2 separate regions of the Homo sapiens genome follow, and region 2 is linked to region 1. Evidence: fine-mapped expression QTL. A gene starts in region 1. The other region holds a variant in brackets. All regions are shown on one strand. Distances are from middle to middle.

What was found. PIP is the estimated chance that this variant, and not a neighbour inherited with it, causes the effect.
Region 2: its variant is the best candidate, but not a certain one, in a credible set for the expression of FAM171A1-AS1 in putamen (GTEx, PIP 0.55).

Annotation. Positions count from the first base shown.
Region 1 is chr10:15,206,901-15,209,818 of GRCh38, reverse strand. It overlaps FAM171A1-AS1 (FAM171A1 antisense RNA 1), which reads right to left and starts at 1,232. Exons shown (of 3, transcript XR_007062068.1): 1 at 1,148-1,232. LOC105376434 (a long non-coding RNA gene) reads left to right here and starts at 2,419. Exons shown (of 4, transcript XR_930699.2): 1 at 2,419-2,443. It overlaps LOC107984211 (a long non-coding RNA gene), which reads left to right. Exons shown (of 3, transcript XR_001747379.2): 3 at 620-1,562.
Region 2 is chr10:15,236,372-15,239,289 of GRCh38, reverse strand. All of the region lies in intron 5 of FAM171A1 (family with sequence similarity 171 member A1), which reads left to right. FAM171A1-AS1 (FAM171A1 antisense RNA 1) reads right to left here. Exons shown (of 3, transcript XR_007062068.1): 2 at 1,626-1,771. Among named protein-coding and RNA genes, the nearest start is that of FAM171A1-AS1, 29 kb to the right of the region's middle. The variant A/G (reference allele first, on the strand shown) is at 1,739.

The DNA.
Region 1 (2,918 bases):
AAATCTTTCAAGGAAGGAATGTTTATTCTTCTTTGTTTTGCACTGAAGTTGAGGCTTAGTGGTTAAGTAATTGAGGTCACCCAGCTAGAAACAGTGGTGCACGGCTTAAACAGCCAGCTCTCTGGAAATGAATGCACTTAAATTATAAATGTCCCTGATAAAGGATGCATAGGACAGAACTTACAAATGGAATACATAATAATCTGTATAATGAAATACATAAGGCTGGGCGTGGCAGCTCAGGCCTGTAATCCCAGCACTTTGGGAGGCTGAGGTGAGTGGATCTCTTAAGGTCAGGAGTTCAAGACCAGCCTGGGCAACATGGTGAAACCCTGTCTCCACTAAAAATACAAAAATTAGCTGGGTGTGGTGGTGGGTGCCTGTAATCCTAGCTACTCGGGAGGCTGAGGCAGGAGAATTGCTTGAGCCCGGGAGGCAGAGGTTGCGGTGAGCCGAGATCACGCCACTGCACTCCAGCCTGGGCAACAAGAGCGAAGCTCCGTCTCAAAAAAAAAAAAAAGAAAAGAAAAGAAAAGAAAGTGTGTGCCCTAAGCTCTGCCAGGGGATACACAACATCATTTAAGTGATAGTGACCCTGTGCATTTGGAACTTTATTTAGGATAAACTAGCACAGACAAATGCAAAAACAAAGAGGCATCGCACCCAAGAAAATGAAACCAAAACCAAAAAGGAAGGAAACCAGAAAGCCACAGAATGGTACGTAGGCCACAAGCATGACAAACTCAGTGTGATTTCTTGTGTTCACCCTCTCACAGACATCGCTTATGCAGGTGTTTAGACCTAGAGGACCTCATAAAAATGAGTAAAGTTAGAAATGGGGGGTGATTTTTCAACCATATTGATATTCCACGATTTCTTGTTTGCTGCATTGACACCATAGTTAAAGCAAGTTGCAATTATGTCTTGGGGACTTTTATGACATCACAGAGAACTTGAAAAGGGCATGATGGTTGTCATGGTCCTTCAAACAGGAGAAGGCAGTGACAAGGAGAAAGGCAGTTGCTCTCATAGATCAGGGAGAAAGCCAGCTAAACTCCAGGCGAAATAGAAATTGCAAGTCTTCTCCTCCCCGCCAAAAAAAAAAAATGATTTTCAAAGCTGTAATTGTAAATATACACTAAAATACCTGGCAAATGTTTTTTCCATTCTTCGCAGCCATTGTGAGTTGTTTCAGGTTGGTATTTTGGTACCTTCAAAGTGGCTCATAATTCTCGCATTGCTAGGCTTTTGCACCTTAACAGGATGGGCAGGAATAGAAGAACCTGAAAGAGGCTTGGTGGTCTCACAGCAGAGGAAATTGAAGGCTGAAGTCACAAGTGTTGTGTTGACCTTTCCACATATGCAATGGGTGACCACACAGAGGTGGGCCTCATCTCCTGACACTCGGCCCAGTGTGCAGCCACCTCTGCATGCTGCTGCCCCATCTCACCTCACTGGCACCCTCTGCTATCTGTCTACAGTATGCATTCAGCACTCCATAATGAGGGTCTAAGGCATAAGTAAACCATGCTAATTATTAAAATCTAGGATTTGGAGAAGAAGCTCTGGGTGTCAGGCCTGGCTCTGACCAACAGACAGGTGACTCACTTCTGATGCTTTAGCAAGAGGTTGGGGGTATTTGCTCTCCTCACCTCTGGGTGAGTTGAATTCAAGTGAGACAATACATATCAAAGTTTTTGTAAGTTGTAAATTACAAAAACAGTTTATTTCTCTGAACTATTACTAGTATCTTACAGTTCCCTAATCTTGTTGCTCTAGTGTGACAATGGTCATTTTGGGGCTATATCAGCTGCTTCTCAGCTACTTTTTAAGGAAAATGGTAGACAAAACAGTGGCATCTCTTTTTCCCCATTCTATTACTTTTGTTTGTTTGTTTTTTTGAGACAGAGTCTTACTCTTTCACCCAGGCTGGAGTGCAGTGGCGCTACCTTGGCTCACTGAAACCTCTGCCTCCTGGGTTCAAGAAGTTCTCCTGCCTCTGCCTCCCTAGTAACTGGGACTACAGGCATGTACTACCATGGCTAACTTTTGTGTTTTTAGTAGAGATGGGGTTTCACCATTTTGATAGTTACTACTGAATGTCAATTTGATTGGATTGAAGGATACAAAGTATTGATCCTGGGCGTGTCTGTGAGGGTGTTGCCAAAGGAGATTAACATTTGAGTCAGTGGGCTGGGAGAGGCAGACCCACTCTTAATCTGGGTGGTCACCACCTAATCAGCTGCCAGCACAGCTAGAATACAAAGCAGGCAGAAAAATGTGAAAACAGAGACTGTCCTAGCCTCCCAGCCTCCATCTTTCTCCCGTGCTGGATGCTTCCTGCCCTCGAACATCAGGCTCCAAGTTCTTCAGTTTTGGAACTCGGACTGGCTCTCCTTGCTCCTCAGACTGCAGACGGCCTATTGTGGGACCTTATGATCATGTGAGTTAATAATAAACTCCCCTTTATATATACATATGTGTGTATATATGTATGTGCATGTGTGTGTGTGTATATATATATATTATTATATATAATATATATATTCCATTAGTTATATCCCTCTAGAGAACCCTAATACAACCATGTTGGCCAGGCAAGTCTCGAACTCCTGGCCTCAAGTAATCTGCCCACCTCGGTCTCCCAAAGTGCTGGGATTACAGGCGTGAGCCATGGTGCCCGGCCCCATCGTACTGCTTTCTGCAAGCTTCAGCTGAGTAATATCTCCTTTGCTCAAAGGGGATGTTTTGCCTGGTGTCTGAAGATAGCCAGTGAGCTCTGTGAAGGTGCAGCCTTCTTAAAGATTTGTCTGGAAACATGTGTTAGGACACTGTCTACAAGGCAATAATGTTAGGGTAAGTCCCCAATCACCATAATTTGCTACTGAAAGCAATACCTCTGTAAAACATGGCAGCCG
Region 2 (2,918 bases), 29 kb before region 1:
AAAGTGAATATTTATTGTGCAGTGGCCAATTTGACCTTTGAAAGAAGCAGTTTTCCTTCCCATGTCTGTCAAAGGAAGTTTTGTTAGTCATAGCGAATGCCTCTTAGCTGAGCCTTTCTGGACAGTAAGAGATGATTATGTCAGCTCTATTTTACAGACGTTTACCCTTTCTTTATCCTGTAACTGGGGCAGCAGATGGCTGTCTGATGTACAGGTTGTCAGACGGACATCTGACTTGTTGCCCTGGGGAATGGTCACAGGCAAACCAGGTCAGTGGTTTGAATTTAAAGCGATGGACATCAAGTGGCAAAAAGAATAAATAAAGATTTACGGATCCTGTATTTGATAAGTTTCTCCTGTTTAATGGCAACCTGGATTATATGATTTGGATACTCTCATTCTAATGAGATGATAGAAATAAAAGCATATTCTAAGAGTGAAGCTACATTGTAGAATCCAGTTTTCACTGCCTCTTCAAAACACAGCCTGAGAGTGTGTGGGGGTTGCTATAGAAATGGTGGTTACTGAACCAGCCTCTTACCACGTACGATGCATTCGTGTCAGGCTCTCAGGAATACCCACTCACAATTGGCCTGTAGTAGATTCGTCTGCACTTCAGACGGTGAATGTTACGGCTATGACAAGCTCATTTAATTAGTCCTTTTACCTAAGTGACGGACAACTTGCCCTTGAAGGTGGAGACTCATTTAAAACACAGATCTAAGATTGTTTTTCAGGTTCATTGGGTTTTTAATTGGGGGTGGGGGGGAAGGGCGGCAAAGAGTGGGAGTTCTTAAAGCACAAAATTATGTTTACAACGTAAAGAAAATGAAACTATTATTGAACATGGAAATGATGAGCTTTGGGTGATAATGTCATGTGAATGCAGGCTCATCAATTGTAGCGAAGGCACCTCTCTGGTAGGGGATATTGATCAAGAGGGAGTCTGGGCTGTATGTGGGATATCTGCACCTTCCTTTCAGTTTTGCCGCGAACCTAAATCTGCTCTTTAAAAAATAGTCTTCAGTGAAATCATTATTACAATATTAGCTTATCTTTGTCTCTATATATCACAAGCCACATGACTAGGTGAAGTAACCCAGATTGGAATACTGAGGTGGGTGATTGGATTATAGGGATAAACAGTACTACACTGTGCCCCCAAACATTAGAATGAAAGAAGGGAGTTCATTTCTTTACCAAGTCTGTGCGTAGATGTGTGACGTGATTTTAGAACCTTGGGCATCATCTTTTATTTTTTGAAAAAGAATAGATGCCGTAGTTCAGGGCATTCAGCAAAGGAGGAATTCAACTTACCTAAGGTAATATCAACATATCCCTAAGAAAGCTGTTATTGGAAATAGGCCTTTTTACAGTGGAAATATTCAGAGTCAAGGCTATGGCTTAGAAATAAAGAAATAACTCTCAGGAAAAGTGTCTGTACTTTCCCAGATGTCAAAATCACTCTTAGGGGTGAATGGGGCTTTAATGAGACCGGTAGGGGAAAAGGGGGTAATGTACCTGCAAAAAAAAAAAGCGATTGAAGTGATCACAGATAGCAAAGAACCCGGAGAGCATGGGACTTGTTTGGGTGTGATGACAGTTCAGTGAAAACTTTGTCTCACCAAAGATCTTGGCAGCCAGGCGGTCAGTTGTGACTTTTCATGGAGATGCCAGTTGGTGTCTGTTGCCACTGTGGACTCAGCATCGCAGTGGCTCTGTACCACTCCTGTTCTCC[A/G]ATGGAGTGCAGGAAGGCCGGGTAGCACTGGTCCTGCCCATGGGAGAACAACCAAGCTGTGATCTCAGAACATCGACATTTGTTTTTCAGTGTTGCCTAGCAACTCAAAAAACAATCTTGTATTATCAATCCATTCCTAGGAATCATTAAGCCTTTTGTGTTTGTCTCCCCCCAAAATGAGAACTTTCATAAAATAATAGCATCACATTTGTTCTAGTATGATCGGGTTCAGGGGGCACTTTTGTTTAAAAACCCCATTCTTAGGGACTTAGGTCTCTTAACGTATCATTTTATGTAGAACTAGAATTTCCCGTCTTGGTATAGCCTGCTTTTGTGATCTTGGAGTTGTAGAGGTTTTATTTTACACTTCATTCTTAGTTACCACTTATGGAGTATTCACTTTGTGGATTATCTGTGGCAAATTTGTGTCTTCCTGCGGGCTTTCCCCATCACCCAGGAGCCTCAAGGCCCTCTTAGTTTGCTGCTATTTGGCCTGGATTTTCTTTTTCAAGTCAGAGTCTCACTCTGCCTCCCAGGTTCAAGCGGTTCTCCTGCCTCAGCCTCCCAAGTAGCTAGGACTACAGGCAAGTGCCACCACACCCAGCATATTTTTGTATTTTTAGTGGAGATGGGGGTATCACCATGTTGGCCAGCGTGGTCTCAAACTTCTGGCCTCAAGTGATCCTCCTGCCTCAGCCTCCCAAAGTGCTGGGATTACAGGCAGTGAGCCACCACGCCCAGTCTGGCCTGGATTTTAAGGACAGCATCTAACACAATCATTCTAATATTAACCTGGGTGAAAAAGAACTAGGAAAGTAAAGCCACTATATTTCAGAATTCAGTACTTTTAAGTATCACCTGGTTTCAGTTGCCTCCACTTGAGTGGGTAATTAGAAGGTAGAATATTATTGATAGATGTGAATATTGCACTGGATGAGACACAGCTGATAGCATTCGTGAACAGGATAGAGGCAGTGTGCAGCCCAGCCACCGAGACGGCTTGGTCTTGAATGCCGGCTCCTCCTCTGGTGACTCGTTGTGTGGTCTTGAGCAAGTCCTTTTTCGTCTCTGGGCTTCAGTTTTCTCCTCTATAAAATGGGGATCATAATAGCCCCAGCCCCTCCCTCATAGAATTGCTGTGAGTGGAGAGTGCCTACCACAGAGCCTGGCGCTTGGAAAA